Regions from separate parts of the Homo sapiens genome. Here region 1 is linked to region 2. A link means that fine-mapping ties the variant in region 2 to the plasma level of a protein whose gene starts in the linked region. Region 2 holds a variant in brackets. A gene starts in the other region. All regions are shown on their forward strands.

Evidence for each region. PIP is the chance, under the fine-mapping model, that this variant and not a neighbour inherited with it causes the effect. Protein levels are from antibody-based Olink assays in UK Biobank. Linkage for the fine-mapping came from a reference panel and not from the study's own genotypes, which makes the PIPs less certain.
Region 1: CD6 starts here. The variant in region 2 is fine-mapped to the plasma level of the CD6 protein (UK Biobank, PIP 0.98).

The regions. Positions count from the first base shown.
Region 1 is chr11:60,961,020-60,972,947 of GRCh38, forward strand. It overlaps CD6 (CD6 molecule), which reads left to right and starts at 10,661. Exons shown (of 13, transcript NM_006725.5): 1 at 10,661-10,895. The coding sequence starts at 10,847.
Region 2 is chr2:25,261,676-25,269,675 of GRCh38, forward strand. The region is part of intron 6 of DNMT3A (DNA methyltransferase 3 alpha); the gene reads right to left. Among named protein-coding and RNA genes, the nearest start is that of LINC01381, 61 kb to the left of the region's middle. RefSeq lists enhancers at 2,325-2,908, 2,909-3,493. The variant T/A (reference allele first, on the strand shown) is at 4,275.

The DNA.
Region 1 (11,928 bases), not on the chromosome of region 2:
TAATCTTGGGGGAGCATGGGACTGAGAGACTTGAGGGCAGAAGGTTAGAGAAAAATGGTTGCTTCTGAGGCTACTGTGGAGGACTTTATTTGGGGTATCATTTTCTAAGCCTCAACAGGGAATTTAGGAAAGAGCCATTGACATGGATGCATTCTATGTGCAGATCACATGAAGCTAGAAGGGTTAGTCCAATTGGGCAATGGGTTCTGGACCACTGACAGGGGAGCTCTATATGAATGAAGTGGATAGATCTGAATATCAGGTCCCCCTCTTGGGAACCTAAGACCCAACTGGAAAGGGCCAGAATGATGTGGCTTAGCAGCATCAAGACAAAAAAATAGCCCTGGGATTTTTTCAACAACAAGAAGTTCAGGATGAGTCAACCTTTAGGCCACCCTAGGCTACAGCATGACAGTGGTTGTCAAGGTAGTGTGACTATAGGTGACTTTTTTTCTTTTCCTAATTTTCCAGAATTCCTCTAATGTAGTTCGGAGGCTTTGATTGTTATAATAAAGGTTAAATTTGGTATCAGGGACCTCACTCTGCTAGACCCCAGACTGATTAGTTCCTTCATAGAGTGTTGGGTTCAGTGGACACCACACTTCAATGGAAACTGATCAGGCACCTTGGAATCCTATACATAAGGGGGAACAGAGAGCTGGGCTGCCCCTTGAAGAGAGCTTACGTGTCTCAAGTAATGCTTAGGAGAAGAACTAGGTCGGATATTCAAGATGCTAAGTTTCAGCTCTGAGCACCATGGTTCTTCTCTCCCTTCTCAAAGTGAGGTTCATGAACCCCTAAGGATCCCTGAAACCCTTTCAGTGGTCCACGAGTTCAAAATTATTTGCATATAAACATAAAGATACAATTTGCCTTTTTCACTGACATAATTTGCCTGGAGCAAAAGCAATGATGAGTAAAACCACTTGTGCCTTCACATGAATCAAAGCCTTGGCGCCAGGCTGGGCACGGTGGCTCACGCCTGTAATCCCAACACTTTGGGAGGCTGTGGCAGGCAGTTCATTTGAGGCCAGGAGTTTGAGATCAGTCTGGCCAACATGGCTAAACTCTGTCTCTACTAAATATACAAAAATTAGCCAGGCATGGTTGCACGTGCCTGTAATCCCAGCTTCTCAGAAAGCTGAGGCAGGAGAATCATTAAAACCTGGGAGGTGGAGGTTTCAGTGAGCCAAGATCACGCCACTGCACTCCAGACTGGGCTACAGAGTGACACCTTGCCAAAAAAAAAAAAAAAAAAAAAAAAAATAGCAGTGGCATCAAGCTGCAGTAGTAGCTGTTGGAGTTTTTCATCCTGATGCATTCAGAGGATGCGTTCTTTTATTTAAGAATGTCCTCAATGAAGCAGTTAAAATTATTAATATTATTAAAGCACAATCTTTATTCTATGTGACAAATAAGAAGTAAGCAAAAAGCACTCCTGCTGAATACTACAGTATGAAGGTAGCTCTGGGAAAAAAAGCACTTGTGCTATTTTTGGATTTGCCAGCTGAACTAGACGTTTTCCCCCATGGAACACCATTTTTACTTGAAACTATGGTTATTCAGACTTAAAAATTTGGCAGACAATTGTTTGAAAATGAATAAAGTGAGCCTGTCACTTGAAAGAAAGAGACAGTATTTGTTGCCATTGATGAAATCAGAGCTTTTAAGTAAAAATTCAAATGTTAGAAAACCCGTGTCATGATCTTGACATCTTTCCAATACTCAAAGTTCTCTGATGGGATCAGAGATGATATCAATGAATGTGATTTTTGATACTGTGTAACGAAATATGTCAACATTTGGAAGATCTGAATAACTTCTGCATCTGTGAACCAGTATGTTCTACAATAACTGAGGCATGTTATTACAAAATCATGCCTGGATAAGAGATCCATTCAAAGTACAAGATAGAACAATGGATTTTAAAAATGGACTGTAGAACAGTATGTTCCACAATGACTGAGACATATTTTTACAAAATCATGCACGGATAAGAGATCCATTCAAAGTACAAGATAGAACAATGGACTTGAAAAATATATAAAAGGTCTTTGATATGATTTCAGATTTCACATTGGAGCTAACCTTTGGAAACTATCACTTGCCAACTTTTCAATATCAGAAAAGAATATCTACAATTATTTTTAAAATCCTATTAAAATACTCCTCCTTTTATCTACTCCATATTGTGAGACCAGATTTTTTCCCATATACTTCAATCTAAATAACATATCTCCACAAATTAAATGAAGAAGCAGATATGAAAATCCAGGTGGCTTCTACAAAGCTGGATGTTCAAGACATTTGCAAAAATATAAAACAATAATATCCCAATAATTTTATTTTATTTTTTTAGACGGAGCCTCGCTCTGTCACCCAGGCTAGAGTGCACTGGCACCATCTCGGCTCACCGCAACTTCTGCAGCCTGGGTTCAAGCCATTCTCCTGCCTCAGCCTCCCAAGTAGGTGGGATTACAGGCACCCACCACCACACCTGGCTAATTTTTGTATTTTTAGTAGGGAAGGGGTTTCACCATATTGGCCAGGCTGGTCTTGAACTCCTGACCTCAGGTGATCAGCTCCCCTCGACCTCCCAAATTGTTGGGATTACAGGAGTGAGCCACCATGCCCGGCCCCCAATAATTTTGTGGGGTTTGGGATATACAGTAATTTTTCACAGAAAGTGTTACTTATATTGACATGTAATGAGTTTGCTGTTTATATTTTAAAATGTATTAAATAAATATTTTAAATGTCTCAGTTTTTTGTTTAAACTTTTTTAATTTTTAATTTTTATGGGTATATAGTAGGTGTGTGTATGTATACATACGTTTATGGAGTATGTGAGTTTTTTTTGTTTTTTTTTGTTTTTTTTGAGACAGAGTCTCACTGTCACCCAGGCTGGAGTGCAGTGGCACTATTTCGGCTCACTGCAACCTCCACCTCCCAGGTTCAAGTGATTCTTCTGCCTCAGCCTCCCGAGTAGCTGGAATTACAGGTGCGCACTATTACGCCTGGATAATTTTTTTTTTGTATTTTTAGTAGAGATGGGGTTTCACCATGTCGGTCAGGCTTGTCTTGAACCCCTGAGCTTGGGCAATCCACCCGCCTCGGCCTCCCAAAGTGCTGGGATTACAGGCATGAGCCACTGCCCCCGGCCTACATGAGATATTTTGATACAAGTATATAATGTGTAATAATCACATCAGGGTAAATGGTGTGTCCATCACCTCAAGCATTTATCCTTTCTTTGTGTTAGAAACTATCCAATTATAAGCTTTTAGCTGTTTTTAAATGTACAATAAATTATTGTAGACTGTAATTATCCTGTTGTGCTATCAAATACTAAATCTTATTCATTCTATATATTTTTGTACCCATTAACCATCCCCACTCCCCCATCCCCACTACCCTTCCCAGCCTCTGGTACCCATGATTGTACTCTCCATCTTCCGGAGTTCTCAGTTTTAACTTTTAATACGATAAATATCAGTAGATATTACCCACATGAACAAAAGTTCTATGGGGTCCTCCATAATTTTTAAGAATATAAAGGGGTCTTCTGACCAAAAAATTTGAGAACTGCTGCCCTCTGTATGCTAAAAGGTAAGAAATAAGCTCCAAAAAGATTTTGGTGGCTGCCACATTGGGAAAGATTTTAAGGGTCCCAAGGTCTGGGGCATGTTGGGACATTATCTCTAGGGTAAAGAACAAGCCTTTGTAACTTGCATCCCCCATCAGTAAGAACAAGGCACAGCACAGGGTGGGTACTTCTGGATTTTAAAGCATCCTGGGGAATTCTGTCGGACCATTTATCATGTGACTTGAGGGGCTGCTAGTGCCGAGGGAGGCCCAGCACGAGAGAAGGCTCTGTGGCAGGTCCAGGCAATGGTGCAAGCTGCTGTGACGCCCTACGACAATCGTGTTCAGTCATATCAGAGATGCCACATGGATAAGGATGCCATATGGAGTCTCTGGAAGGCTCCAAAAAAGAGAATTTTGCAGCACAAACCTCTAGGGTGCTGAACCAAAGCCATGGCTCCTGCAGTAGAGAAATGCTTGTCACTTGAAAATCATATCCTAGGGTGCTACTGGGCCCTGATAGAGACTTGTGCCTGAAGATGGGTCACCAACAACTAGGGGACCACAAGACCCCATCACACACCAGGCTATAAGATCTGGGGAGAGGGGCAGCAGCTGTACAATTGCTTCAAACCCAAACAGAACCAGAAGGTACAAGTAAGTTACATGGACAGATGGCACCTGCCTCTTTTGCATCCATATTTCTCTCTGTCTCTCTTTTTTCCTGAGACTGAGTCTCGTTCTGTTGCCCAAGTTGGAGTGCAGTGGTGTGATCTCAGCTCACTGCAACCTCTGCCTCCCGGGTTCAAGCAATTCTCTGCCTCAGCCTCCCAAGTAGCTGGGATTACAGGTGCCTGCCACCACACCTGGCTAATTTTTTTTTTTTTTTTATTTTTAGTAGAGACGGGGTTTCACCATCTTGCCGAGGCTGATCTCGAACTCCTGACCTCATGATCCACCCACCTCGGCCTCCCAAAGTGCTGGGATGACAGGTGTGAACCCCCACGCCGGCCCCATATTTCTCTTTTAACTCACATCTATGGCCTTGAGAAAGCTCTTTCTGATAGAAGTGGAAAACTTCAGACCTGGTTCACAAATGGGGCAGCACAATCGGTTGTTACTAGCCAGAAATGGACAGAAGCTATACTATAACCTCACTCAGAGGTGGCTCTGAAGAACAATGGTAAAGGGAAATACTGGCAGTAGGCAGAGATGGGATAGTACCTTTGGTCATTCGTGGACTGTATATGGAAACAAGTGGAGGTATAGATATACATGGACTCCTGGGCAGGGGCCTGGAAGGAACAAGACTGGAAAATCAGAGGCAAGGATATCTGGGGTAGAGGCATGTGGATGGACACGATGTATGTTAATGTCCAGTAGAGAAGCTCTACCACAGGGAGGCCTACGACTATCAAGAGGACATTAGCCAGCTTCTCTCCATTGGCCACATCAGTGCTGGTGCAATGGGTGGTAGGAATGGAGACCACACATGGACAGATAGTTATGAGAACCATTTCAGAAGTCTGAGATCGAGTACTAGTTGTCCATAGTGTGGCCAAATCAATGAGGCATCCTTTTATTGACTTTCCTTCTTTTCCTATTTCTCTTCTCTTTGTTCCTCAACCTGTTCCCTCGGATCGCATTCCCAAATAACCTGTCGCAAACAAGCCCTTGTTCCAGGCTCCATTTGAGGGGGAAGAGGCTAAGTTAAGCTACTACCCATTTACAATTGTAACCCCTGTTCACACTCCTAGCCTCTCTTACACGGCTCTGTTTCTTTTTTTCCATATAACCTATTTATTATGTCTATTGTTGATTATGTTTCTCTCCCACTAAAATATAAGCTCTGTAAAAACAGGGATATTTGTCTGTTTTGGTCCGTGTAGTGTCCCCAGCACCTAGAACACAGATAAAGTTGTGTTGAATGAGTGACTAAGTGATTAGAGCTAATGTATGTACATTTAGATGCTAAATATTTAGAACATGGTAGAAAATTCTGGGCCTCAGGAAACACAAGGTTTGGCTGTAGCTGGTTTGGAGACTGTGGTCAGGACTGAGAAATTTCGGGATTCAAGAGACTAAGGAGTGGGTTTGGCTTGGCCCAGGAGCAGGGCTGGTCCAAAATTTAGAGTCTCGTAGAACCAGAGCCTTTCCTGCCCGTGGTGCCATGTTTCAGCCAAAGCCTTTATGCTTGTACCACAACCCACCCCTGTGGTTAAGAGCCCAGGGTCTTCATCCAAACAGACCTGAGTTCAGAGCCTACCCCTACTACTTCTTAGTTGTGGGATCTTGAGCAAACTACCTCTCTAACTTCAGTGTCATTATCTGCAAGGCTGTGCTAAGGACACATTCTACTTGGTTGAGTTGTAATGAGAACTGAGGGTTAAGGTTCCATATAAAGTGTCTGGCACAATAGGAAGTGCTCACTAAGTACCCGTCAGCATTAAACTTTCCCACGTGCCACATGGTGAGGGTGGCGGCCTTTCAGTTCTAGGTCCTCTCTTCCTTCTGGTGGGAGAGTCGGGCTTCCCTCAGTAATGTTGCTTATTCCAATTTGTTGGGTGAAGGTCAGAAGAGAGATACAGTCTGGATGAAAAACTCCTGAGTTCTCCACAGGGTGCAGAGCCACTGGGTGTCCCTTGCAAATTGAGTTCACAAGGTCCTGCTCCAAGAGTTCTAAATAAAAATGAGCTCATTGATTTGGACACCCAGCTGGGTGCACCTTTCAGCTTCATTTTTGAAACTTCGAGTCTGTGAAACATGGGCTGCCTGGGGTGTATCATGTCAATCCAGCCCCAGCAACACTCACATCATGCTGTCTTGCCTCTACTTACCCTGTGCCCTGTCAAGAGCACCCTTCCCGCCACCCTACACCTGAGCTACCTGCTGAAACCTACCAACGCTTCTGTTTGTCCTATTCTCCCTTTCATTTCTTTCTTTTCGTTTCCTGCCCTCTTTGGCTTTACAGCAGGCTTCTCTCCCCAACAAGTTCCATTTTATTGTTCAACTAGTTTAACATGCATGTTTAATTGAACAAGGTCAAATGCTAGTCAATATTTTGCCCTCCCACCAAATAATAGACCTTTCCCACTCTGATCACTCCTCACCAATTTGTTATTGTTTTATGGTTCTTTAGTTTTATCTCATTTTTTTTTTCTTTTTTAATTTTTTTTTCTTTTTTTTTTTGAGACAGAGTCTCGCTCTGTCGCCCAGGCTGGAGTGCAGTGGTGCAGTCTTGGCTCGCTGCAACCTCCACCTCCCAGTTTCAAGTGATTCTCCTGCCTCAGCCTCCTGCATAGCTGGGACTACAGATGCGAGCCACCACGCCTGGCTAATTTTTGTATTTTTAGTAGAGATGGGGTTTAGCCGTTTTGGCCAAGCTGTTCTCAAACTCATGACCTCAAGTGATCCAACCACCTCAGCCTCCCAAAGTGCTGGGATTACAGGCATGAGCCACCATGTCCAGCCTATTTCATTTTTTTCTAACTCCACAAAGTGGACATTTTTGTAATTATTTTATGCTATCAGTGCTTATTAAATCCACTTCTGTGTTTACATATTTCTTTGCTCACCATTCTTACTTGAATCTTAGACTTTTTTTTCTGAGATTATTTTTCTTGTTTTTGAAGAACATCCTTTAGAATTCCCTTAGGTGAGAGTCTGTTAGCTATAAATGCTCTCAATTTTCATCTGAAAATGTGTCTTTTAAACCTTATACTTGAAAGATAGTCAAGGTTGACAGTTATTTTTTTATTAGTACTTTGAGATGTTGTTCCATCGCCTTCTGGCTTTAGTTATTGGTATTGACATATTAGCTGCCCATCTACTTCATCATTCATCCATCTTCTGTCTAGTGATCAGCAGTTTTGCTACCAAAAATGTTTGGTGTAGATTTCTTTTTATTTATCATGCTTGGGTTGGGGGAGCTTCCAGAATCTGAGGATTGTGTCTTTCATCAAGTCTAGAAATTTTCCATTTTCTTCTAGAACTCTAATTAGACATATTTAAATCCTTGTTCCTTGTCTATGTCTCTTAGCCTCTTTCATATTTTCCACCACTTTGTCCTCCTGTGCTCCATCCTGGGTAAATTCTTCAAATCTATTGTTCACCCCAGTAGTTGTCTCTTCAGCCATATTAATCTGCTGTTTATTTTTATGTATGTATTTATTTATTTATTTTTGAGACAGAGTCTCACTCTCACCCAGGCCGGAGTGCAGTGGCACAATCTCGACTCACTGCAATCTCTGCCTCCTGGGTTCAAGCAATTCTTGTGCTACAGCCTCCTGAGTAGCTGGGACTACAGGCATGTGCCACCTCACCTGGCTAATTTTTGTATTTTTAATAGAGACAGGGTTTCACTGTGTTAGCCAGGCTAGTCTTGAACTCCTGGCCTCAAGCCATCAGACTGCCTTAGCTTCCCAAAGTGCTGAGCCTTAATCTACTGTTTAATCTGTACACTGGGCTTCTATTTTCAAAAATTATGTTTTTACATAACTGCTTGCTTTTTTTCCCTCAATCTTCCTGGTCACTTTAAATAGTCTCTTGTTCCTTATCTATACTTTCAATTACCAACTTTTAATTCTTGAAGCATATGAAACATCCTTATTTTATATTATATATACTGCAATTCCAACATCTGAGATGTGTTCGAAGGTCTGCATTTTTAGTTTATTGCTTGGTGCTCCTCTCACCTAAAGCACCTTGTGTCCTGTGTTTTATGATTTTTCTGTTTTACAAACATGTGAACTCATGTTCCATGGGAGTTTTTCTGTGGGATTTCTTTGAGTCATGAATATAGGATGAGTTACTCCAGAGACAATTTTTATCATTTGTTTCTGCCACGTGCCTAAGGAGCTATTATTTACCTTACTTTAAATTCTTATCTTATCTTTTTGTTTGTTTGTTTTTTGTGTGGTTGTTTTTGCCACAAAGTCACCATGAGTTTCACCTCCAGGCCTATTAGTGGGTAGACTTGTGGTGAGGGGCATTCAGGGTTGACATTTATTTTTCTCCCACTCAGAGTCCATACTGAGTTGGGCAAGCTCTGTGTCAGCTCGCTTTAAGGAATTTTTCTCTCCGAGTTCTCCACTGTGGATGTTGTATTTCAGTGCTCTTTGTTTAAGGCAGAAATTTTGGATTTTGTTTTTCACTTCGATTTTGTTTCTCAGCTTTAACTTTTGTCCATGTTCATAAGACTGAAGCTCTTGGTCAACTGGATCAACAGATACTTCTCTGCTGGCTGTGATCTCTTTGGATTTTTGTTGTCTTTATATATTAACATATACAAGGTCTCACTCTGTTGCCCAGGCTGGAGTACAGCAGTGCAATCTTGGCTTATTAAAGCCTTGACCTCCTGGGCTCAAGCGATCCTCCCACCTCAGCCTCCTGAGTAGCTGAGACCGCAGGTGTGTGCCACCAAACCTGGCTAATTTTTTGCACCTTTTGCAGAGAGAGGGTTTCACCATGTTGCCCAGGCTTATTGTCGTTTTTGATCTCTGATGATTTTCTTCATTTCTCACCACCTCAGCTACACATTTTAAAAGATGGTTTACAATATTTTTGTGGTGTTTTGTATTAGGAGAATTCTTCAGCATCTGCTGTCTACCATATTGTCAGAAATGGAGTCTAGCCATCCTTCCCGGCCCATTTCAAACGGGTTCCTCTTAGGACCAGGAGACCTCACATTATGTGTGTCCTACCTTGGCCTGTGGTTTGGTCACTTGTGTGTGTGTGAACTTCATCCTCCTTGAGGGCAGGAATATGGTTTCCTCTCTTTCACTTCCACAGAGTCCTGTCCAGAGTTCTGCACACCAAGACTGTGTAAATGAATGGAATTGCATCTGGGAGCTCGAGGCACCCATGCAAACCTGTGCTGCCAGTGACTTCCACCAGAGGGCAGCGGCAGCAGGTGCCGGCGCTGGGGCAGGACTGGGAGGAGTCTCACTCTGGGGGCGCCTGGTTCCCCGTGGCTCTAATACTTGCCGCATCAAATGCATACACCCACATTTAGGACCGAACCCAATGGAGGAGGACCGCTCCTCATTCCACATGTTGGGGAAATGAAGACAAGCAAGGATGCAGGAAGTGGAGGGCCAGGAGAGGTGGACCTGGGATGGGACCAATTGAGGCAGGGCCAGGATTTGGAACCAAACCCCTTCTGGATTTGACCACTTCCAGGGCCCTGCTTGGACAACCAAATTATCTATTCCTTTTCTCATTCAATAAACATTTATTCACCTCCTACCATATGCTCCACAGGGAGTACCATGGGAATTAAACACGCTTGGCCCCTGCCTTCTTCCTATAGCGTCAGTCTGCTGCAGTGCAATGGGGCAACTCGGGGTTTCTCAGGCAGCCCTGGGCTTCCTTCCTTCAGCCCTTTGCTCCTGCTATTCCTTCTGGCCCAGAGGCCTCCCATGATTGCTGTTTGTCAAAATCCTGCTCAGCCTTGTAGACCCAGCTCCCATGCCTGACTCCCACGGAGGCATGCCCAGTCTGGTACCTGGAGATGGGATAGCTGGCCCCACTGTGCCATCTGACGGGGCGGCTCCCACAAGGCCTTGGCACCCTTCCCTGTAGAAGGACTTGTGGGATGGCCATCTCTCAGGCCCTTCCCAATTTATATTTCTCTGAGGGGAGACTTAGGCTCTTATCTCCAAAAGTGCATCAAGACCACACCCTCCTTCCCAACCACCATTGCACCTAAGGTTAAGATAAAACTCAGGATTTAATCCAAGAGAGCCAAATTACACGGACCGGGACAGGCAATGGGTCATTCACTCCCTCTTCCAATATGTACTGATTGAGCAGCTACTACATTATCAATTTTTTCTTCTGGGCCACCAGAAATGAGGCATGGCTCTTCCACTTCCCTTCTTCTTAGAAGACCCTCGGGGAAGTGTGTCTGCATGGATGCGTGTGCATGCGTGTGTCTGGCTCCGTGACTCTTGGGGTGCAGCCTGGATGGGTGGGCTCCCAGCACAGGCAGCTGGGGCTCTCCCCACCAGCCCCTGTAACAGCAGCCCAGCTTCCTGCAGACCAAAACCACAAGCAGAACAAGCAGGCGTGAGACACTCACAGGTTGGGTTTGATCGCATGCGTGTCGGAGAGGAGAGAGCAGAGAGAGACACAGGAACAAGAACAGCAAAGGGTAGAGCAGACCTGCGCCAGGGGCGCACAACGGCCGTGTCCACCTCCCGGCCCCAAGATGGTGCTTCCCACAGGCAGCCACGCGTAGCAGCCAGAGACAGCTCCAGACATGTGGCTCTTCTTCGGGATCACTGGATTGCTGACGGCAGCCCTCTCAGGTAGGCCCCCTTCCCTCATCTCCTGCCACTGGTGCTGGAGGAGCCGGGTCCGGCCCTCTCAGTCCCCTTTCTGGTTGTTTCCTTGTGGTCACTTTTCTAGGATCTTTTAGCCAAGACTACACTCAGGTACCAGGGAGGTCCAGCATCTGGGGCTAGGAGAGGACACAGGAGCCCCTCGAGGGGCTGGGGCTGTGCCTGGAAGCCTCCTGGAGTGACAGAATGTGGGAAGCATGCTTTGTGCCTTACCAATGGGTCCCTAGGGTGTGAGGAGGGAGGTGCCTCTCCCATCCTTAAGCTCAGGAACTCCCCCATTTCCTATTTCTTGCCAACTCTTAAGAAGGAACCGTTCACCTTCCAGAGAGGCAGGACCACTGATGGTGGTACTTTCAACGCCAAAGCTGAGGCTTGGGGTCCAGCAGGCGTAGGCCAATCACAGGAGAGCACCTCCCGAAACAGGACTCAGGGAAGCCAGGGAGAGTTCTGGACAACCAGGCGCTGATGGCCTCAGCACAACCAGCTGGGGTAGTCTAGGGCATAAGCGAGCATGAAGGCCACCCCCACGTCTCAAGCTGCCCCCAAGTGTCAAGGCACCTGGCCACCTGGGCCAGGGAATCAGATGGCCAGAAGGTTTGGGGCACTAGACTGTGCTCCCCAGATACTTGCTGGCCCCTGTTGAGTGCAGGGTCCAAGCTGGCCAGAGCGGGGCAGGGGCCTGGAGATGCAAGAGATCCTGACCCCATCGAGCTCTCACATTTTGGGATTTGGGAAGACTGGTATGGAAACAGAATTCGGGCCAGGGGAGTCTGGGTCCACCTTGCAGCCAGAGAGCCAAGTGCTTTCATTTTGTGATGGAGGAGACCCAGGAAGACCCAGTCAGGAGGGGGCATCGAGCTGGTTTGGAGGACTGGGTACATGTCGCGAGACTCTGGGCAGGGAGTGCTCTCCTCTCTGCCTTGATCTCCAGGCATGTGTTCCGAGCCTGTGGCCTCATACTGGTTCAGGGAAAGCCATTCGGCTCTGGGAACTGGAGTTT
Region 2 (8,000 bases):
ATAGATAGGTGAAAGGGGGGTTCAGTAGTCCTCTAACTGGTTCAGGAAATCCTCCTGGACGTTGACCCCCGGCCACCTGCTCCCAGAAGTCCCATGTCCTTGTCCCTGCCCCTCCCTATCCTGGTCCTCTCCTAGCAGGTCTGCTTTCTGTGCTTTCTCTCCCTGCCCTCCTGCCTGTGCGTCCCCTCCATGAGGACCACCCTGGAATCTGACTAAACCTGTCCCCTGGGGTCGGGCGCAGTGGCTCACACCTGTAATCCCAGCACTTTGGGAGGCCAAGGTGGGCAGATCATGAGATCAGGAGATCAAGACCATCCTGGCCAACATGGTGAAACCCCACCCCGTCTCTACTAAAAATACAAAAATTAGCTGGGCATGGCAGCACATGCCTGTAACCCCACCTACTCGGGAGGCTGAGGCAGGAGAATCACTTGAACCAGGGAGTCAAGGGTTGCAGTGAGCTGAGATTGTGCCACTGCACTCCAGCCTGGCGAGAGAGCAAGACTCCGTCTCAAAAAAAAAAAAAAAAAAAACCTGTCCCCATTGACACCAATCTGCTGGCTTCTCAAAAGCAGCTTATCCAAACCCTAGCTCAAAAATCCACCCCCTCCTAAGAGAAAATATCTTAAAGACCTTGCGGTAGACAGAGAATTCTTAGAGATAACACACACAAACACTAACCAATAAAGGAAAAAAATGGGTAAGTTGGACTTTATTAAAAACTTCTGCTCATCAGAATACATAAGAAAATGAAAAGTTCACTGTATCATCCTGCCTCAAACCTGCTCTTCCTCCAAGATTCTCTACCTCAGATAATGAACCCTATCCCCAGCCCAGCTCCCAATACCAGACAAATTTTTCCCTCCCCTCCAACCAGGACCAGTTCTAGCAATTCCTTCAAGTTTGCCTCTCATTACCTCAACCCTCAGTCAAGGCCAAATGTAATGTTCTCCTACCTGGTCCTGCTTCTAAACTTCCTCTCTCTGGGGAATACTTATTGTCCTGCCAGGTTATCTTCCTAAACTATGTGTCCAATTCTCTTCCACCCCTGCTCTCCACTGGACAACGAAGCCTAAATTTCTCACTATGGCAGGAAGACCACTGAGGATGTGACCATCTTGCTTTCTAGTTCTGTCTCTTCTTGCCCATCCTCCCTAACCCCTGCACCCTAGTTACCAGATCTCTTACTACTCCCTAAACAACCCAGAAGTCATGCCTCCTTCTCTTTGCCCTCAGTAGTTCCTTTTCCTGAAATGCCTTCCTCCTCTTTAACACTTTTTTATTTGTTTGTTTATAATTTATTGAGATAGTATCTCACTCTGTCACCCAGGCTGGAGTCCAGTGGCATGATCATGGCTCACTGCAGCCTCGACCTCAGCCTCCTGAGTAGCTGGGACCATTGGTGCACAACACCATGCCCAGCTAATTAAATATTTTTTTTGTAGAGAGTGGGTCTGGCCATGTTGCCCAGGCTGCTCTTGAACTCCTGGGCTCAAGCAATCCTCCCACTTTGGTCTCCCAAAGTGCTGGGATTACACTGCACCCAGCCTCTTTTGCACTTACTGAAATTCTCAAAGGATGCCTGCCTCCTCCAGGAAGCTTTCCTGGAGTCCTCCAGAAGCTGCTCTCATGCTCCTTTATGCTTCATGTTGGGCTCTTTACACAGGAGCACAGAGCAAGCCCCACGCTCTGACTGCCACTGAGGCTTGTTGGAAACATTCCTGCCTCCTCCACTTGACAATGTGTGCCTCTGGGACAGGGACTATATCCAATTGGTCTCCCCCTACCCCGCCACTAGCATAGTATCATGTTTATTTACCAAGTACTGAATTACTAAGCAATCAGTAGTAAGTACTGAGGTCCATTAACTCCTTTAACGAGTGTACTGGCCTCTTAATAAAGCGGCAGAGGGCTCTGGCAGACCACCCCATATGTGAACATCCCACGGCCTCCCTGACAAGCAGTCTGGTTTTTAAAGCAGAGAGAACATTGGCTATTATATTTTCTGCTTTGTCAGCCCCATAGACAGTGCTATGGGAAAAACTTTGAGGCACTCTAGACTCCAAACTCCTAGAGGATTTCTTTGACCACCTCCCTTAGGACCCCACTCCATGCCCTTCCCCCACTGTCCCTGCCAAGCAGTCCTGTTCAGGTCAATGGCGGTACACTGCCTCTCCCTAGGCACCGCCTTCCCTGAGGCCCTTAGGCAGGGCTAGGGAGTTGCTTGCACAGTCCTTCCCTTAGTATTTCTAAAACAACCCTGCCCTGGCTACAGCACAATTCATTCATTTACCTACCAACCTCTCACAGGGGAGGGTAGAATTCTGACTTGCCTTTAAATTTGCTTCCTTAGTGTCTAGAAAATGTTGGAACATAGTAGACACCCAGACACACAAGGTGGTATCTTAAAGACTGAGCACACAGTATCTGCTCAGTAAAGGCTGGACAACCCTTTGGTTTTTTTTTTTTTTTTTTTTTTTTTGAGACAAGGTCTCGCTCTGTCGCCCAGGCTGGAGTGCAGTGGCGCAATCTTGACTCACTGCAACCTCCACCACCCTGGCTCAAACGATTCTTGTGCCTCAGCCTTCCAAGTAGCTGGGATTACAGGCATGTGCCACCACGCCCAGCTAATTTTTGTATTTTCAGTAGAGACGGCGTTTCACCATGTTAGCCAGACTGGTCTCGAATTCCTGGCCTCAAGAGATCCACCCGCCTTGGCCTCCCACAGTGTTGGGATTACAGGCGTGAGCCACTGTGCTGGGCCAAAGGTTTTTTTTTTAAAAAGAGTTTTTTGTTTTGTTTTTTTTTGTGAGACAGAGTCTGGCTCTGTCGCCCAGGCTGGAGTGCAGTGGTGCGATCTCGGCTCACTGCAAGCTCCGCCTCCCGGGTTCACGCCATTCTCCTGCCTCAGCCTCCCGAGTAGCTGGGAGGTGCCTGCCACCACGCCCGGCTAATTTTTTGTATTTTTAGTAGAGAGGGGGTTTCACCATGTTAGCCAGGATGGTCTCGATCTGCTGACCTCATGATACGCCTGCCTTCGCCTCCCAAAGTGCTGGGATTACAGGCGTGAGCCACCACCCCCGGCCAAAAAGAGTTTTTATAAGGATGCTTCACGTATGTGCCTTTAGAAGAGACGTATATGCGAGGTCTGAGAATTCACTCAAATATTTAATTTAGAATTTATGTACAAGGTAATCTAGGTAATAAAGAGAGTGCAGATCATGATTCCAGTCTCACCCCCCAACCTGCCGTGATGGAATTTTAGAATCTCTGGGGTCATCTCATCTATTTCTGTCGCATTATAAACCAGGAAACTAAAATGCCGAAAGCAGAAAGACCTCCTCACATCCATAGCTAAGGAGGGGCAGAAGCTGAGACGAGAAACCAGGCCTCCCAAATCTCATTCCAACATTTTCTTAATCCAGTTTCACAACATCATCCACATGGTCATGAAAAAACAGCAATTCAAGGGCAAGGGTTCAGGACCACATGAGTAGAGCAGGGAGGGGTGGTCGGGGAGGCTGAAAGGGACCTGAGCCTCCTGGCAAAGAGGCATGGGGAGCAGCCCCAACAACTGCAGGCCGGGGGCGGGAAGAGCATGCGGCAGGCTGGAAAGCCGGGCCAGCTCTCTCCCTCTCTTCTAAATGCATTCTTCAATTTCATGACAATTTCCAAGCCAGGAAACCAGGAAAACTGGGAGTGTAGGTTAGTCATTTGGGTACACAACAGAAGCAACACGAGATTTGGAGTCTAGTTTTGCCCATTGGGCCACTCCATCAGGATACCCATGTGGCCGCAACCTACTTACCTAGATAAATCTTAATTTTCTAATAGCAAAATACAGGTTAAAAAAATACTTCTGGCCGGGCGCGGTGGCTCATGCCTGTAATCCCAGCACTTTGGAGGCTGAGGCAGGTGGATCACCTGAGGTCAGGAGTTCAAGACCAGCCTGGCCAACATGGTGAAACCCCATCTCTCCTAAAAATACAAAAAATTAGCCGGGTGTGGTGGCAGGTGCCTGTAATCCTAGCTACTTGGGAGGCTGGGGCAGGAGAATCGCTTGAACCCAAGAGGCAGAGGTTGCAGTGAGCTGAGATCATGCCACTGCACTTCAGACTGGGTGACAGAGTAAGACTCCATCTCAAAAAAAAAAAAAAGACATTAAATGCAGATAATATGTTTTAGGATTGTGGTGAAAGCTAATGCTCCTGGCATAGTGCCTGATGTAAAGTAGGTGCTCAGTGAAGTTCAACACCCTTTCCCTGGTTCAGGCT[T/A]TGCTGTGGCCAGGAGTTGGCCCTGGGCCAGCAACTAGTCACCTACCCCACCCTGCCTCTTTTTTTCTCACCACTAAAAAGTAGGGGTTGTTCTAAGAGCTGTTCTCTCTGTGCCCCAGAAGTGAAGACTCTGGTGCGCAACCAACCCATCTACTTAAAGGACAATGGGGAGTCCCTCTGTGGCAACTTTAGTAGCCTATGGTAAAGGCCAGCCCTCGAAGTCACTACTGCTTACAGGCTGTCATGGGAGCCTCTAGAACTTGTTCAGCCTTGGGTAAAGTATACTTGCTGTGCCTACTCCAAACATCATCATCTCCTTCAAGGGTGATGTTATTTTTGAGGCCACGCTGCAAAAGGTCAGGTAGGGCAAATAAGTGAGGAATGTCTTCCAGTCCAAATGCTCTAAAACTGCTTCCCATACAGTTGGCTAATAATTTGTTTTGAGCCTTTACTGGTCTACTTTGCACTTCCATTTCTCCTGAACTAGACTAAAGCCCAGGAGATCACACCTTATTATCTCCTCCTTCCCATAGCCCCTAGCACAAGGCCCCTTTACTTAGTAGGTGCTGAGTGACTGCTTATTAAATGGAATATGACACAGCATGGGGGACCTTCTGGACATTCATGGCCTGCTCTCCTCAGGGCAGACAGGAAGCACAGTCTGTTGAGACTGCAGGGTTGTAAAGTCAGAGGAGGCAACATTTGCTAAGCTCATAGAAGCAGCAGCACAAATGGCCAATAAACATAGGAAAAGATGTTCAACCTTATTATCTGGGAAATGCCAATTAAAAGCATAACAAGATACTATTTTCCCACCCATTTGACTAGCAAAATATTGATGTTGGCAAAGGTCTTCTCATACCCTGTTCACAGAAGCATAAATTGGAGTGCCCTTTTTAGAGGGCAGTTTGGCAGATGTCATAAAATGTAAAATGCACATTCCCTTCAGCTAGGCCTTTTTCTTTCTAGGTATCTGTCTTAGAGAAACAGATGCACAAAGAGGTATGACTAAGGATGTTCACCGCTGCAATGCTAAACAGTAAAATATCATAAACAACATAAATGGCCACCAATAACAGAATGGCTAAATAAAACCATGGGAATCCACATGGTGGAATATAATAGTAATTACGTGGCTAGATTGCACAGACTTATTGGAAGTCAAAAACCAAGCTGTAAAATGAAACTACAGTGTGGTTCCATTTGTGTAAAAAGAACAGGAAAAAAAGAACCCCTGAAGCAAAATTATATATTTACACGCATACACACGGATAGGAAAAAATCATGACGTTACACCAAACTGATAGCATCAAGTATTTCTGGTGAAGGAATTAAATTTTCAGGCCAGGTGTGGTGGCTCATGCCTGTAATCCCAGTACTTTGGGAGGTGGAGGCAAAAGGACTGCTTGAGCCCAGGAGTTCAAAGCCAGCCTGGTCAACATAAGGAGACCCCCATCTCTACAAAAAATTTAAAAATTAGCCAAGTGTGGTGGCACATGCCTGTGGTCCCAGCTACTCAGGAGGCTTAGGTGGGAGGATCACCTGAGCCAAGAAGTTGAGGCTGCAGTGAGCCATGATCATGCCATTGTACTCCAGCCTGGCCAATGGAGCAGGACCCTGTCTCAAAATAAAATTTTGGGGTGGCAAGTTTGGGCGGACTTTTTCACAAGAATGTATTTGTGTAATACTTATGTAATTTAAAATACTTTCTAAAAAATTATAAAGTTCCTATTATATGCTAGCTCTGTGCTAGGAGCTTTAAATGTTGTGTGTTGTCCACACAACTCTGAGATAAGAATTGTTCATTCATTCAGCACACTTTCACCCTGCACCTCCCACATGCCAGCCCTGGGGGCAGGGGGTGCCCAGAATGCCTGTATTGAACGAGCTTAAATGCAGAAATGGGTAGAGGCAGAAAACAAGCTGGCGAGTGCTGCTGTCATGGAGATGCAGAGTACAGCCAAGTCCATCCACAGAGGAGGAACCTCAGCTGGGGTACAGGGTAAGTGATGCCTAAGGTCCCACACCCAGTAAGTGGGACCTTTCTTAAGGCAGTATTTGAACTTGCCTCCAAAGGTCGCAGTAAACAGCAGCCAACCCTTAAGGTCCATGAAGGCTCTGCTATCTGCTGGGCAGCCCTGGGCGGAGGGAGTGGGTTGTATCTCAGTGTGGCGAGGGAAGGGAGGAGAGACTATGATGTTCCAGTCACAGATGTTTCATTATCACTATTCAATATTATTAAGCATCTAATAAGTATAAGGATGCATGAGTCAAGGGTCCCTACCTTCAGGTCGGAAGCAGGAAAGAGACCAGATCCTAGAACAATAGGACATGGTACCCGCTGCCTAGACGGAATTTAGAATCCGGCTGGGGTGAAGAGATTAATGAGCGAGTCATGCCATCAATGTGCTGTAACTGAGTCCTAAAACCACCAGCCGCGACACAAACTGGAGTGAGTGGCTTCCCAGGCGAGATGACCGCCCAGCTACTGACCCTGGGTCTCTGTGCTCATCTGCCTTGCAGAGCTACAGGGAGGGCTAATGAAGCGAGAGGCCCTTCCTAACCCTCAAGCCCTCCATCAGAGTGCATTTTGCTCTGAGAATTAGAAGGAAGAGGAGCTAAGGGAGTGCCTTCCTTTGGGAGGAGGAACTGCCCTACCCTGCCCTCCCCACAGCCCTGGCCAGCTCTGCCAGGCCAAGGAAGGTTCTCCTCAGCTCAGAAGCCTGGTGAGAATGGCAGGAATACAGGATGGAGGAGACTCTGGCCCCCCTTTACCCATGGAGGCTGTCCATACCAGTCCCCATGCCATCCTCCAGGTACACCTGTCAGCACCCCTGGAAAAACCACCTCGAAATCAAGTGTGTGGGCCCTTGTCATGGTGGAAATCTAAGATCTCATGTTCCCAGAGAAGTGGTCCCACATTCACCTACCTCCCAACTGCTTAGCCAGCCAGCAGGTATTCACTGGGCCTGTTCTCCCTGCCCATTGCATTAGGCCAGACAGAGGAAGATGTGATCAACACATAAGAAACAGTGAAAAATACCCTGATGAAATATGATTGAGTGCTAAGTAATATTAACCGTAAGGACAGTCTGAGTGCAGTGGCTCATGCCTGTAATTCCAGTACTTTGGGAGGCCAAAGCAGGCGGATCACTTGGGGTCAGGAGTTCGAGACCAGCCAGGTCAACATAGCAAAACCCCATCTCTACTTAAAATATAAAAATTAGCTGGGTGTGGTGGTGCGTGCCTGTAATTCCAGCTACTGGGAAGGCTGAGGCGAGGCACGAGAATCACTTGAACCTGGGAGGTGGAGGTTGCAGTGAGCCAAGAGACTGCACCACTGCACCCCAGCCTGGGAGACAGAGTGAAACTGTCTCAGACAAACAAACAAACCCCAGTGAGGGTTACAGGGATTCAGGGAAGGGAAGAGGTCATTGTGGACTGGAGAAATCTTGGAAACCTTCCTGGAGGAGGCAGCAGCTCTTGGCCTCAACCCTGAAGAATGGACTGGGGAAATCACAGCAGGAACGATGACAGGAAGGAAGGAAGGAGCATGGCAATGTCCCTTCCTAGGGGACACCCTTCTATTAGAGGACTGTAGTGAAAGTGGGGTGGGCTGATTGTGGAGGTCGAAGGGTTGAAGACTTGAGAAATAGCCAGAGGGTATCTGACATGATGGGGGAGACAATGGGGAGCCATTGGAGGTTCTATGGCAGGGTGTGATCA